Linked DNA regions of Homo sapiens. The protein of the gene in region 2 purifies or fractionates together with the protein of the main gene of each other region. This does not show direct contact. Each region holds a gene or a part of one and is shown on either strand. Other genes may lie near its edges.

Region 1 (7,269 bases), on a different chromosome or scaffold from region 2:
AGCCACAGATACACAAGCATACTGTAGGACGGTTCCCATGAAGAGGCATCTGTTGTCACCACTGGACACAGATGGTACTGTGTCTCTGCTACTCTACCAATGCCACTGCTGTCTCTGACCCCAGATGTAGCTCCCTCTGACCCTGGATGCAGCTCCCTCTGACCCTCGATATAGCTGCCCCTGACCCCGGATGTAGCTGCCTTTGACCCCAGATGTAGCTTTCTCCAAACCCAGATATAGCGGCTGCCCCCTTGCCAGAGTGAATACTGCGTCATTGTGGCTTCTTCTTGTCACTGGTTCTTACTTAAAAGCTGAGCTGGAAGTTCTAATGGGCAGTTTTGTCACCTGCTCTTACCTTGTTGCAGTCTAGATGAGGTCTAATGTTCATAAGCTAGGGGATTTTCAGATATGGAAAGGGATACCAATTTTCAGCAGCCAAATAGAGTATCACATTTTCACTCCATGTTTCCTGGGTGTCTGTTATGTTTCCTGGGTGTCTGACTCTTAGGCTTCTTTCAAGCTGCAGTCTGCCTAATAGAGAGCCTTGCATTTAATCATCAAAAAGGCAAAGCAATATGAATCAGCAAGGGTGTTTTGGGAAATAACAGCAAACCTGACTGTGGCGTAAGCTTGTGGTATTGTCTCCAGTGTGATCAGATCTGTATTTTAATTTTTTAAATGTAAATTAATAATGATCTGTGAATCACCAAAGTAGCTTGGAGTAGCCTAGAAAACAATGTATGTCCTCCGTTTTCACAGAAGCCACATAGTCGTGGGTTAAATGAGTCAGCGGCAGGGCACTGTGTCTCATAGTTAAAAAAAAAAAAAAGTATTACTGAAGTAATGCAGGATCTTTTCTGAAGTAGAAGGCATGATGAACCCAGAAAACTAAAGCAGCAAGTGGCCACCGTTCTTAGCATAGTTGTTTCTCAAACTGGAACAACCTATAAACAGTTGTGAACAAGGTATTAGAAGTGATGGGGGCCGGGTGCGGTAGCTTCTCCCAAAGCTCATTACCTCCCAAAGCAACCCCAGTACTTTGGGAGGATCACTTTGAGCCCAGGAGTTCCAGACCAGCCCGGCCAACATGGCAAAACCCCATCTCTCTAAAAGTACAAAAAATTAGCTGGGCATGGTGGCACATGCCTGTAGTCCCAGCTACTTGGATGGCTGAGGCAGGAGAATCGCTTGAACCCGGGAGGCAGAGGTTGCAGTGAGCTGAGATCACGCCACTGCACTCTAGCCTGGGGGACAGAGTGAGACTCTGTCTCAAAAAAAAAAAAAAAAAAAAAAAAGTGATGGGAATAGATTGTTTTGTCTCAAAAAGCTCTTTCCAACACTAAAATGAAACATATAATTAAAAATATTTTTCTGGCTATAGAAATATCGATGCTTATTATAGACATCTGCAAAGTATGAAAATATATGAAGAAAAAAATTAAAATCCCATCATCCCCCATGAAAACTATTGTTATCATTTTTGTCTGATTTCTTTAGTGTTTCTCTTTTTCTTTTTTTAATTTTTAATTTTTTTGAGTATGTAGTAGGTATATCTATTTATGGGGTATATGGCATATTTTGATACAGGATACAGTGTGTATTAGCAAGGTTTTCTTTTTAATGTTTATATTTATTTAGTTGAGATCATACTATATATGGCTCTATAGATTACTTTCTCACTTATATTACTAACTTGTGTTATTAAATATTCTGCATAAAGATAATTTTAAGATGAAATTTGATGTTATAAAAACTTCTCATTTTATTAAGAGATTAACGCTATGAAACCTGCTGCTATATATTCTTGGAACCAGCTGTGACCCAAAAGATCAATGTAGGGATGTAGGTCCTTCCCCATTCTCTACACACAAAATCAGATACTCTGATGTGCAGCTGTAGCCCCAGTCTACACTGTCTGTTGTATTTTTTGTTTTCTGGTGTCATGTGCCTCCCACCCTGCTCCTAGCAATTGCCATGACAACAAATAGATAATTGGCTTCCGTAATTTCTCATCTTATTGCCTAAGGCAACAGAGAGCTTGTGGGCTCAGCTTGCGGTTCAGCAGCTGCTTTGTTGCCTCTCCTCTGTATGTGTGAGGCCTGCCAGAGCCCACTTTCCAGACAGGTGAGAGTTCATTCATTCACCATGCAGTTACCGATCGTCTCTTGACCTGTGTCCTGGGGAGGTAAAGGTGATGAGCCAGTTCTGCCCCATGCAGCTCACAGTCTAGGCAAAGCTACATGCAAACAAACAGAATCCAAAGTGCTATCATGAACCCTCTGAGAGGGGCTGACTCAGCAGCCCAGGGAGCTTGAAGAAGGCTCCACAGAGGAGGCTGTGCCTCAAGGCGATTTCGGTTTAGGAGCCACCAATTTATAACCACTTTTCTGTGGCCCGTCTTATTTTATTTCTTATTTCTTGACAATCAGAAGTACCTTGGGTAGGTTTTACCATGCACATCGTAATTTGAGTGAGCTTAGTGTGAGGCTTAACGGTGTGTGGGCTGTACATCCTGGTCAGATGCTCTAGATGGAGGCAGATGGTTGTGATGCAGGAGAGGCAGCCACATAGCACAGGTCCCCAGCCAGTGGACTGGGAAGACAGTGTAGTCATCTCTGGGGAAGGGGAATGACAAGATCTGGCAGTGTGGCAGGTCCCAGAAAAAAAGGGCTGGGTTCTGGGCAGTGAGGGTGCAGGTTGAGACCTGAATACTGGGTGGAGCCAGCTGTCAGAGTCCACGCCTGCAGACTGGACTGGTCCACGGCAGGTGGATGCCATGTCTTGAAGACCCACAGGCACCCACTCATCCTCATGATCATGCAGTTCTCTGGTTTCTAACAGTGCAGTCTGGGTTGCAGTCTGGGAGTCCAGCAGAGAAGAGCAGGCCCTGGAATCCCAGGTGTGGGGGCGTGGCTTAACGTGGAGTTTCCTTCAGAGGCAGTGAGTGCTTGTCATTGTCTCCGTCAGCATTGGCTTTGGGCCTAGTGTGGCCTCGAACCTTCTGTTGGGATCAGCAGTGGAACAGTAGGAAAAGGAATGAGTAGACATGGCATTGCAACAAGTCTTTTTTTTTTTTTCTGTTAGAATTATCATATTAAGCAGAAGTTTTGCTTCACAAACTCTCAGCCAAATACAAAATACTATGAATAGTATTTACCTTGTGTCTCTTTCCAAAGAACTCATAGTGGTTTGCAGCTATTGCAGATATCCTGGCCATGAGGTATGCAGTTCCTTTTTTTTTTTTTGAGACGGAGCCTTGCTCTGTCGCCCAGGCTGGAGCATAGTGGCGCGATCTCGGCTCACTGCAAGCTCCGCCTCCCAGGTTCGTGCCATTCTCCTGCCTCAGCCTCCCGAGTAGCTGGGACTACAGGCGCCCACCACCACACCCGGCTAATTTTTGTATTTTTAGTAGAGACGGGGTTTCACCGTGTTAGCCAGGATGGTCTCGATCTGCTGACCTCGTGATCCTCCCGCCTCGGCCTCCCAAAGTGCTGGGATTACAGGCGTGAGCCACCGCGCCCGGCCGCAGTTCCTTTTTCTAGCTGTTTGAATAGGAAAGATGACTTGGAAAATGCTGGATTCTGAGCAGATTTATGTGCAGCCTTAAAAAGTGTAGTTTTTCTCTATCAATAATGAGTGTGGGTTGTAATTGCTTAGTAAGTAATTTTGTTTATGTAAACGTACATTTGTTAAATTTTTTTTCTTAGGTAATCCCGTTTGTTGGCACCATTCCTGATCAGCTGGATCCTGGAACTTTGATTGTGATACGTGGGCATGTTCCTAGTGACGCAGACAGGTAAAATCACTGTGCTAAAGGAAGGAGCATGAATAGGCTGTCTTTTTGTGATTGTGGAATGATAACAGAGTAAGGCGGGAGAGACCATTTGATACTTTGAGGCCCAATTAGCTTTCATCAGCAGCCCTGGCCAAGGTGCTGAGGAGATTGGAATGAATGACTAAATAAAGGTTATTGGGATTTATTTCATTGCTGTAAGTCTGATTTCAGTATAAAAAATTAGAACTATCAGCTGGATGTGGTGACTTAAACATACTTTTCCAGCACTTTGGGAGGCCAAGGCAGGAGGATTGTTTGAGGCCAGGAGTTTGAGACCAGCCTGGGCAACATAGTGAGACCCCCCATCTGTAAAAAAAAAAAAAATTTAAAAATTAACTGGCTTGGTGGTGTGCGCCTGTAGTTGTAGCTACTCAGGGGGCTGAGGTAGGAGGATTCCTTGAGCCCAGGAGTTTGAGGTTGCAGTGAGCTGTGATCGAGCCACTGCACTATAGCCTGGGTGACAAAAAAAAAAAAGAAAAAGAAAAAGAATTAGGTATGTCATTAAAGAAAGGAATTGTGGTCAGATGACAGGGACAGTCTAGTTTTAGTCTGACATTCCCACAGCATTACAGATCTAGTTCAGATGGTTTTACTGAATACCTGCTTTGGATACAAGCTGTGGTATCATTAGTGTTGGGCTCAGCTCTGTGTACCTAACACCTGAAGAGCAGTGGTTTAAGATGTGAAAATTAAGTCTCAAGGAGACAGCCCAGGCCTTTTCAGTTAACTCCTTCAAGTCGTTAGAGAAGTAGACTCCTTCGAGCTCACCACTCTGTTATCTTGAGGGTGAGGTAAGGTCCCCTTTCCCGTTTTCCTTGGCAGCCAGATTTCCAGCCCTCACTTCTGTGCTTTGGGTAGCTGGATGGGTGCATGTGGTGTTTGCGGGGAAACAGAGCTGGACAAAAGGCAAGTGCTTGCTGACTTCTAAGGCAGTTTCCAGTAGCCTTCCCTGAGCACTTCACTTCCATCTTACCAGCAGAGCTTTAGCTGCACAGGCAGGCCTAGCTGCGAGGGAGGCTGGGAAAGGTAGGTTTTTATTCTGGGCAGATTCAGACCCAGTTCAAACTCAGGGGCTATTTTACTGAGGAAGACAGAAAAGATTAGACAGTCAGCTCTTTAGGCCTCATAGTGAATGAATGAGGAGGGATTGGTCAGTCCCTTGTCACTGGGCCTGGAGTGTAGTGCCTGCTGGTCCTTTACTGGTGGCTTTCCTTTCTGAGCACTCATGGGGCCCCTGTGTCTTCCCTCATATAGATTCCAGGTGGATCTGCAGAATGGCAGCAGCATGAAACCTCGAGCCGATGTGGCCTTTCATTTCAATCCTCGTTTCAAAAGGGCCGGCTGCATTGTTTGCAATACTTTGATAAATGAAAAATGGGGACGGGAAGAGATCACCTATGACACGCCTTTCAAAAGAGAAAAGTCTTTTGAGATCGTGATTATGGTGCTGAAGGACAAATTCCAGGTAGGTTTTGGAGAGGGACAGGTTGAGTCCTCATTAGTGAGCAGGAGTGCACAGGGGTGCTTTTCACATTTGTGAGCCCAGCCTTATATTTCCTACACCTGAGATATAGTTTGTTTGGCTTTGTAGTTTTTCTCCATAAAAGGACCAGGAAGGCACCTAAATGTGAGGTATGGCACCACTACTCTCCAGCCAGTTGTTGCCATGCAGAAATATGGTCCACTGTGACCAGATCTTTTTATTAGATCCTATTTCTCCTAGCAGGGCTGAGTTCCGAATTGACACAGTATTATGTTCATGATGGGAGGGTAAGTTATAATATAACCGCCACCACCCGAAGAGCTAACAAGGGCAATCCCAGCGAAGAAATCAGAAGGGTTTTGTAAATTCAAGTCTTGCCACAAGACAGTTCCGTAGGATCATGAGATTTTAGACCCAGAGGAGATCCTAGAAATCCTTGATGTCAGTTCCATCTCTGGCTTCATGGAGTGTCTTGTACCTAGCGTGTATGTGTACGGTTGAATTTGGTCCCAGAAGCTTACACCTGCTGGCCCTCTGGCCTGTGGAGCTTGCCCACAGTAGAGGTATGTACCAACGCGAGAGAAGACTCGAATGCCTCTGGCGCAGATCCTTTCTGATCTTCGGGATACTGCTCCTGCCCGAAAGTCTTTCTGAATCTCCCAAACTCCATTCACCTCTCCCTTCTCTGGCCTTTTGAGCCCGTGTCTGTATCATTCTTTTTCACAGTTTTTAACAGTTGTGCTTTGGCTTTACGTGTTTATTTTGCCTCCACAATGGGATTTTAAGCTCCCTGAGTCAGAGACTATATTGTATGCTGCTCGCGTTTTCTGCCTATAACCTAACGTGGTACCTGGCATTTGAGAGGGAGGGAGGAGGAGCCTCGTAGCGTGCCGAGGACCTGCAGAAGCTACTTTCTCGTCATCTTACTGTAGTCTGTTGAGGTAGAGACTGTTCCTACTTCAGAATAAGAAAACCGAATTCAAATATGTTGGGTAACTTGTCCATATTAATTTATTTAGCAAATACAACAGATTTTGAGTGTCTGCCACATGGGTGGTCTCCAGGGACAGTGTTGTGGGGAGCTCGCAGGCAGATCTTTAACCTGGGTTCACAATCTCCAGGGCACCTGTGCCTGGGCTTCCAGGCGACCTTCGAACCCAGATGTCTCACATGTATGCAGAGGCGCACACAAGCACACGCACATATACTTATGACTGCCTGTTTGTCTGGGGAGAGACAGTTCCTGGTGCTTAATCAAATCAGGAACTCAAAAGAAGTTTGGAAGCACTGCTAGTGTTTTGGGTGCTTTCGGTTACCATTTGGTCATGTGTGTGGAGACCTGTGGGAACAGGTATAAAACTGGACGCAAGGAAACATTTAAATTTGGATAATAAGTTAATTTATTAACTGTTTTTTTTTGGTGGCGGGGGGGGCTCTGTCTTCTGTATCTCTCTAGGTGGCTGTAAATGGAAAACATACTCTGCTCTATGGCCACAGGATCGGCCCAGAGAAAATAGACACTCTGGGCATTTATGGCAAAGTGAATATTCACTCAATTGGTTTTAGCTTCAGCTCGGTGAGTGACCTTCCACAGCTTGGGGTCTTTTATGAGGATGGTTTCTGATGAGATGGTAGAAAAAATCTTCAAATAACACTTCTATTGACATAAAAAGGACGTATCTCCCTGACTGTAGTATTAATTTTTTGGAAGTGAACTGTTCACACTAGCAGAAGGCTGTTTATCAGCCAGGGCTTCATTGTCTGTAGGATCTCAAACCTAGTGTGGTTTTAATAAAACACACACAGTTTTTAGCTGGGTAGCAGCTATTTCCTTTGCATGGGCATAAAATGGAGTATTTCTGTAAGACAGGTTCCTAGGCTGGGAGTGCCTGAGTCAAAGAGCACAGTCATGTGTTGCATAAGGACAGTTCAGTCAAAGATGAACCACATA
Region 2 (8,157 bases):
GAAACTTCCCACCCCAACCCCCTCCCTTGGTCCATCAGTCTCTTCCCTGCCCCTGTACCTTTCACCCCACCCTTAGCATTTCCAGATCCCCTCCCCATCCCTGACCCTGTCCACCTCCATCCTGGGTCTCTTGCATTCTAAAACATTTCCCAGGTTTCCCAAGTCCCATACACAGTCTCCTCCCTACCTCCTTATGGATCGCCTTCTCGTTGAAATTAATCCCACAGCCCACAGTAACATTAATGCAGCAGGAGTCGGGGACTCGGTTCTTCGACATGGAAGGGATTTTCTCCCAATCTGTGTAGTTAGCAGCCCCACAGCACTTAAACTGGGGGAGGGAAGAAATATGGAGAAGAAGGTTGTTAAGTGAACCTTCACCTTCAATATGGAGATGAGAATTCTTTTTTTTTTTTTTTTTTTTTTTTTGAGACAGAGACTTGCTCTGTTGCCCAGACAAGTGCCCAGCGGTGGCTCAATCTCGGCTCACTGCAACCTCCGCCTCCCGGGTTCAAGCGATTCTCCTGCCTCACCCTCCTGAGTAGGTGGGATTACAGGCACTCACCACCACACCTGGCTAATTTTTGTATTTTTAGTAGAGACAGGGTTTCACCACGTTGGCCAGGCTAGTCTTGAACTTCTGACCTCAGGTGATCTGCCCACCTCGGCCTTCAAAAGTGCTGAGATTACAGGCGTGAGTCACCACACCCAGCCTTGGAGATGAGAATTCTCTATTCCCACCACCCCTGCTCCCAGCAACCCCACTCACATCTGCCTGCATCCTGTCCAGGATCGAAGCAGTGTGGTTGTTTTTCGGGTAATTCTCCATCTGCTGCCGGAAGTTGTTATTAAACTCTGACATCACCTGAGAGTACGGAGGAGCACTGTTGCAGTCAGAATTCAAGCACCAGGGTCCCAGACCCGGCTGAGGCAGGCCCTTCCCATTATTCCCTGCTTACCTTATCTCTAAACACATAGCCAGCAATGGCTGCGGCCACCTCCACCAACATGATAAGAGACAGAAAGATGGCAAACTGCAGGAGCAAAGGACAGAAGTCAAGTTTGGAGTCTATGCATTACAGGGGCCCGTTTTGGCACAGCCGGTCCCTGGACACTCACAAAGGTCTTCCTCACCCACCCACCTCACCCACCTTCCTGAGCCCGAACCAAGCTGCTCTGGCAGTCCCAGACCGCCCATGTTGGTCCCGCCCCCAACTCACCGTGATCATAAGACAATAGTTCTCCTTGCAGGCCCCGCAGCAGCCCACAAAAGCCACCAGGAAGAGGAAGACACCCACTGCGATGATGACCACTGGCAACAGAGAGCCAGGGGTAGCCCCCTGGATTATGGTCTGACTCAGGACAAGCTGTGCCCCGACACCCACGGCAATCAGTCCCACTGCACAGGCCTAAGAGAAAATCAGGTGAGGATTAGGCCATATCCACAACACAGTGGCCCTCCATGGTGGAGGGCAGGGGGTACACCTAGGACACAGACTTGACCCCATCCGGAAGAGAGATTCTCACACCTCTAGGGAATTTCTTTGGCTGTGGGGTAGGGGGATGACCCATCCTTGCCTGCCCCTACCTCCCCTGATCCCCTCCCGGCTCTTTAATCAGGGACATGACCAAATTCAAAAACCTCCCAGAAAGCCTTGACCTCAAGACACGTATTTCTGACCTAGAATAATGCTTTCTACAGGCCTCCAGGGCTCCCAGCTCAATTCTCTCCCAGAACTGCCCCCTCACTATCCTCCAGTGCACATCCCACGCGCGCATCAGCTGTGACTAAGGTTCCTCTGGCCAGTTAGGCCAGGAGAAGGGAAGAGGAAAAGGGAGCAAGAGTGATGTGTCCCTCCCTAGACAAACAGTAGCCTCTCAAGCCAGGAGCCCAGGGCAGGAGCAAATTGAAGTGGGCAGAGCCCTTCCTCACCCCCAAGCGCTGGGAGGAGGGAAAGGGGGAGAGGGGCTGGACAGGGATGAGAGGGTTGGGGAGGGAGAGAGGGGAGAAGGGAGAGCGAAGGGAAGCCCCATGGCGATAGCATCAGGCGGTTGGCTGGTTGCCCCACTGCCCCATATCACAAGTGGTTGGGTCACCAGACAGGAAGGGCCAGGAGGGATGGGGGTAGGGGTTGCTGCACACCCAGGATGGCCATTCTCGGTGGAAACAAGCCTCAGGTGTCCAGGAAAACTGGAGGAGGGAGTGGCTGCGCTGTCTTTCCCTGGCTTTCTTTCCACATCTGGTCTCCAGCTGCCTTAATTCTCATTCCCTCAGCCCTCACCACTGTGGAGCCAGGTCTCCCCGCACCCTGCCGGCGCGCCCCCCAGGACCCCTCGCCACTCACGCAAAAGGCCAGCAGGAGGACGTAGAGCAAGAACTTCACACATTTCATTCCTCCTTCCACCGCCATGGCTGCCGGGCCTGGGGCAGAGGGGAGGGCGGGGGGATTAAAACTGGCCGAAGGGGGACCTCGGTTTCCGGGCTCCCGGCCGGCCCTCGAGGGCTTCCCTTCACGGCCCCGATTCCCGGCCCCTCCCACCCGGAAACCCGCGGTCGGATCCACGTCTCCCAGCCCCCTCTTTACCCGCAGGAGAGGGGTGGGGGCGACGGCCGCGAAGCCCGGACCCCGCCCCGCCGCCTCTGGGGCCCAGGACAGATCCAAGGGCGCCGGCAGGGGCTTGAGCCTGACGCCGACCCTCGGCCCGCCAGTCTCCGGGCGTCAAACACCCTTTCCCCACCCAACACCCAGCCTGGAGAAACGGTCTTCAGCCCAACCCCGACCCCCGCCCCAGCCCCTTTCCCCTGGGCTCTGACCTCCCCGCCCACCAAAAAAAAAAAAAGTGCAGCCAGCACCCCCGCCACACCCTGCCCGGGCCCAGGGAACTTCGAAGCAAAGTTGCTCCAGGGCGGCTGGAGAGCGCCGGACGAGTCTCCGCGGGCCTGGGGCGAGCCCTGGAGGAAGGGACTGCGGGTGGTCTCTCCCAGCCCGCGCCGAAGTCCGCCGGGTCCCCGCGGCCTCACCTGGGCTTCCCAAGGCTGGCTGCGCGTTCCTCTCCCGCCGCGGCTCCGGGGCTCTCTAGCTGCGCCCCCCGGCTCCCGCCCCGCCTGCCGCGCGGCCCCGCCCCGGGCTCCAGCCACGGTCCCCTCCCCCGCCGAGTGGCCGCCGGCCTCCCTCATGTGACGCGGTAACAGCTGCGGCCTGAGTCACTGGGCCCGGCGCGGGGTGGGCCGAGCCCCCCGCCCGGCCAGGGCCACGTGGCCCCTACCCGGAAGAAGGCGCCCACCCCCGCAAAGGGAAAGCCGCAAGGGCAAGACCTCGGGGCGCCTGGGGCCCCCCTCTGGCGCTATACCTCCGTGCCAACTCGGGGTAGGAGAGCGGGGCGGAGCGCAGCCTGGGTCACTCTGGTTCAGAGAAGCGGACGAGGTGGGTGAGAGTTACCCTCTGAGCGCCGGGGCGGAGAGCTGAGGCCGGGTGACAATGTGGTCTGTGAGGTTTCCCCATCCTACCGTAGGGGATGAGCCAGCTCTCTCCTCTGGCTCCAACTCTGTGCAAGCCCCCTCCCCATCCGACTGTGCAGACAGCTGGGGACTGCCTGGGGTCGGGTGGGGCCAGAACAAACACTTCCAGAAAGTCCCTGGCTCACATCCTGGGTGTCTCCCAACATTCTACAGCATTCTAGAGTGGGGATTTCTGGCCCCCCTCTATTAGCACAGCTTCTCCATTTTCCAGGGATCCTAGTCTGAGAAAAGGGGAGGAAGCCCTTCCCCGAAGCCACGCTACCCAGTCAATCAAGACACGTCCGCGTCGGGTCCCGCCCTCTGGGGGAGGATTGACAAGGTCTGTGCTTCCAGCCTCCCAGACAGCTCCTGCATCCGTCTGTGATAGCGAGGGCTTGGGGGAAGACACGAAGGCAGGAGAGGCTTACATCCTCTGGATTTCCCCGTCTTATCCCAGAAGACAAAGCCAGGTGAGGGCTGGAAGCGGGCTAGGGGGATCAAGCTGCCTCCCTCCCTTGTGTGCCAGGGGTGGTCCCCAGAAGGAGCTGATCTGAACAGGCCGGAGAGTAGGACCGGCCGTCACACCCCCACACCTCCAGCCTCGGCCCCACTCCTTGGGCTCTTAAGGTCCTGCCTCAAGAACCACTTCCTGAGTCTTAGTGTATGTGTGTACACAAAGAATGAAAGAAGTCTCTAGAGCTAAAGGAAGGAGATCCGGGCTGGGCTGAGAAGCATCTTCCAGGATCACGGCCTTCCCGCGGGACACACCAAGCCCATTCCGGATCTTGCTCTTCCTGACCATGGCTGGCAGGCTGTGGAGGAGGAGCGGAGAGCAGAAGAAAGGAGTATTCATCAGGTTCCTTATTGTGCTGCCACTAGATGCCAGGCATGTGCTAGGCTTGGGGGCTGCAAGGAGAGGAAGACAGCGGCCCTGCCCTCTGCTAGCAGGCAGAACCGAGTTCTGGCCACACTGTGAAGAAAGGCAGAAGCCTGCGGTGGCAGCTGGTTAAGCTCAGAGGGAGGGAAAGGGAGAGGAGAATGGATTTCACGGAGCAGAAGGATGTGCTCAAGGTGACCTTGGAGAATAAAGGGGAGAGCTCCAGGGACAGAGAAGCAGTCGACTGTGGAAAAAAAAGGAGCATTTTGTAAAGTACATGGCAGGTTGGGGTTGGCTGGCTCAAAGGGCTTGGGACGGATGTGGTGAGATGGGCTGAAGGTGGTCTGAAGATCAAGATTGAGAGACTAGATACATAACAACCAACTGCAATGTTTGGTCCTTCATTGAATGGTTGAACAAACCAGCTGTGAAAGACATTTTGGGACATACAGACATGGACTGAGAATTAGACATAAGAAAATTATTTTGTTAACTGTTATCATGGTTAACAAAACGGTCATATAATATGATTATGTAGAGAAGTTACTCTAGTTTTTCCTCTTTTTTTTTCTTTATTCTCCTATCAGCCAATGCATTTGTTACAGGAAAGGGGTCCCAATCCAGACCACAAGAGAGGGTTCTTGGATCTCATGCAAGAAAGATTCAGGGCGAGTCGCAGTGCAAAGTATAAGCAAGTTTATTAAGAAAGTAAAGTGGTGAAACAACAGCTGCTCCATAGACAGAGTAGGATGTTCCCCAAAGTAAGAGGAGGGGCTAGGCGCAGTGGCTCACCACACCTGTAATCCCAGCATTTTGGGAGGCCTAGGCAGGTGGATCACCTGAGGTCAGGAGTTCGAGACCAGCCTGGCCAACACGGTGAAACCCCGTCTCTACTAAAAATACAAAAAGTAGCTGGGCACAATGATGTGTGCCTGTAGTCCCAGCTACTCAGGAGGCTGAGGCAGGAGAATCACTTGAACCCAGGAGGCAGAGGTTGCAGTGAGCAGAGATCGTGTTGCTGCATGCCATCCTGGGCAACAAGAGTGAAACTCCGTCTCTCTTTTTTTTTTTTTTTTTTTTGAGACGGAGTCTCGCTCTGTCACCAGGGTGGAGTGCAGTGGTGCCATCTTGGCTCACTGCAACCTCCGCCTCCCGTGTTCAAGTGATTCTCCTGCCTCAGCCTCCCAAGTAGCTGGGACTACAGGCACGCACCACTACGCCCAGCTAATTTTTGTGTTTTTAGTAGAGATGGGGTTTCACCATATTGGCCAGGATGGTCTCCATCTATTGACCTCGTGATCCGCCCCCTCAGCCTTCCAAAGTGCTGGGATTACAGGCGTGAGCCACTGTGCCCGGCAAAACTCTGTCTCAAAAAAAAAAAGTAAGAGGAGGAACACATTCACCCTCGGTATAATGCTTGTATATATGGAGAGATGTGCTCTGCTACAAAAGTTTGTGATAAAGGATTAATTTTCTTAATTACTGTATTTTGTAAGAATCGATATTATCTTTTTTATTATTATTAATTTGTTTCCTTAACCATAAACATCTAGGTTTTTTGTTTTTGTTTTTGTTTTTGAGATGGAGTTTTGCTCTTGTTGCCCAGGCTGGAGTGCAGTGGCACAACTCACCACAACCTCTGCCTCCCAGGTTCAAGAGATTCTCCTGCCTCAGCCTCCTGAGTAGCCGGGATTACAGGCATGCGCCACCATGCCTGGATAATTTTGTATTTTTAGTAGAGCCGATATTGTGCCATTGCACTCCAGCCTGGGCAACAGAGCGAGACTCTGTCTCAAAGAAAAAGAAAGAAAGATGAAAATGTTGTGGAGATGGATGGTGCTGATGGTTGCACAATGTGTATGTACTCAATGTCCCTGAATTTTATGTTATATATATTTTACTACACACATACACACAAAGAATGGCCCACTTCTACAGCCTGGAAAGTTGACACAGAGCTCCATGTGTTTGCTGGGGTGCAGGATAGAGGGGCCTCTTAGTGGGAAGTGGCTGATCTCAGACCTGGCCCTTCACATCCTTCAGATCCCCCAGCACCTGTTCCAAGTGCCTGACATCCAGATATGCCACCAAGCCGTCCTGGCTGGCCCAGGCTGCTGCCTCTTGGTTGCCTGGCACCAGTTGGTGGTAGGTGTGCTGAGGCGGGGACCCTTGTCCCTCCACACCAAGCAAAGCCAGCTTTCCCTCCAGCTTCACCACGCCTCCACCTAGGCCCAGCGACACAGCATGGGGGCCACAGATGTCTCAAGCAAACCTGCAGCCTTCTGAGAGCATGTAGGCATCAGCCAGACCCAGTGCCATGCACAGCAGCTTGTAGCCTGCATCTAAGCACAGGAAAGGGTGAGGGGATATGAGGAGGGTGAGGGGATATGAGGAAGGTGAGGAAGAAAGAAGGGATCCAGAATCAAGGGAAAAGAACAGTTGAGGAGAGTTGGGAGAGGGGTGAGGAAAAACCGGAAAGTGAGAGACATAGAGGAGGGTGGGAGGCATGGGGAAGGATGGGGGAAGAGGAGGCAAAAATACATGAAGGATCAATGCTTCTTGGGCTTCAGTTTAAAAAACATTTTCTTTAATTTTTGAAAAATAGGTGTAAGAGAGGAGTGGGGAGAGGGAAGAGGAAGAGATAGGGATGGGAGGGAAGAAGGAAACAAGGATGCATCATCAAAGCCATCCCCCCACTGGGAGGGTAAGGAGAGTGGTGGATAAAATTCAAGGTCCAGAGGTTGGGTCTGAAATGGGGGCCTGAAATTTAAGTCCAGAGGCCTCAGCTTTGGATAAGGATAGAGGCACGGTGCTTGATGGCATCTCTCAGATCGCAGGGTGAAGGAGGGGCTGCACCTGCGCGTTTGCAGGTCCTGCTGGCAGAAAAGCTCATAGACCATCCCGCAGGGCTCTCCAGAGAGTAGGTTATATGCCCCAGCACCAGCACTGAGTGCAGCCCCCAGGGGAGTACTGTGCACGGGCTCCATGGCGACATCACCACTATGTATTTACTGGTTGGTGGAGACTGGGGAACACAAAGGAGTCTCCAGGCCAGGCGCGGTGGCTCACGCCTATAATCCTAGCACTTTGGGAGGCCGAGGCGGGTGGATCACCTGAGGTCAAGAGTTTGAGACCAGCCTGGACAACACAGTGAAACCCCATCTCTACTACAAATACAAAAATTAGCCAGGTGTGGCCAGGGCGGTGACTCACGCCTGTAATCCCAGCACTTTGGGAGGCCAAGGCAGGCGGATCACGAGGTCAGAAGTTCGAGACAGCCTGACCAACGTGGTGAAACCCCGTCTCCACTAAAAAATACAAAAATTAGCCGGGCATTGTGGCGCACGCCTGTAATCCCAGCTACTCAGGAGGCTGAGGCAGGAGAATCACTCTAACCCCGGGAGGCGGCGGTTGCAGTGAGCTGAGAACACGCCATTGCACTCCAGCCTGGGCAACAGAGCGAGACTCTGTCTCAAAAAAAAAAAAAAATTAGCCGGGCGTGGTGGTGCACACCTATAATCCCAGCTACTCAGGAAGCTGAGGCAGGAAAATTGCTTGAACCTGGAAGGCAGAGGTTGCAGTGAGTCAAGATCATGCCACTGCACTCCAGCTTGGGCAACAGAGTGAGACTCCATCTCAAAAAAAAAAAAAAAGGAGTCTTCCAGTCACTGGGTGGCCATCTCTGCTCCAACTTTTTGGGGGAGGCCACACCCTTCATAATTGGCAAGACTACATTACCATGGTATCCAGAAGAACATATTGCCAAAGTCCCTTTTTTATCTCA

What was found. The genes of interacting proteins can lie anywhere in the genome.
Region 1: the proteins of CD63 (region 2) and LGALS8 purify together in Homo sapiens (affinity purification with mass spectrometry; 3 studies listed by BioGRID and IntAct, with this or other methods). This does not show direct contact.

The regions. Positions count from the first base shown.
Region 1 is NC_000001.11:236,533,790-236,541,058, forward strand, and holds part of LGALS8 (galectin-8), read left to right. Parts: intron 1-3,707; coding exon 3,708-3,796; intron 3,797-5,089; coding exon 5,090-5,300; intron 5,301-6,774; coding exon 6,775-6,894; intron 6,895-7,269.
Region 2 is NC_000012.12:55,725,934-55,734,090, forward strand, and holds the start of CD63 (CD63 antigen), read right to left. Parts: upstream 3,077-8,157; 5' UTR 3,020-3,076; exon of another isoform or gene 2,863-3,019; intron 2,774-2,862; exon of another isoform or gene 2,583-2,773; intron 2,422-2,582; exon of another isoform or gene 2,420-2,421; 5' UTR 2,409-2,419; coding exon 2,343-2,408; intron 1,968-2,342; exon of another isoform or gene 1,931-1,967; intron 1,907-1,930; exon of another isoform or gene 1,679-1,906; intron 1,407-1,678; coding exon 1,218-1,406; intron 1,032-1,217; coding exon 957-1,031; intron 863-956; coding exon 767-862; intron 329-766; coding exon 188-328; intron 1-187. UniProt on the Homo sapiens protein: Functions as a cell surface receptor for TIMP1 and plays a role in the activation of cellular signaling cascades. Plays a role in the activation of ITGB1 and integrin signaling, leading to the activation of AKT, FAK/PTK2 and MAP kinases.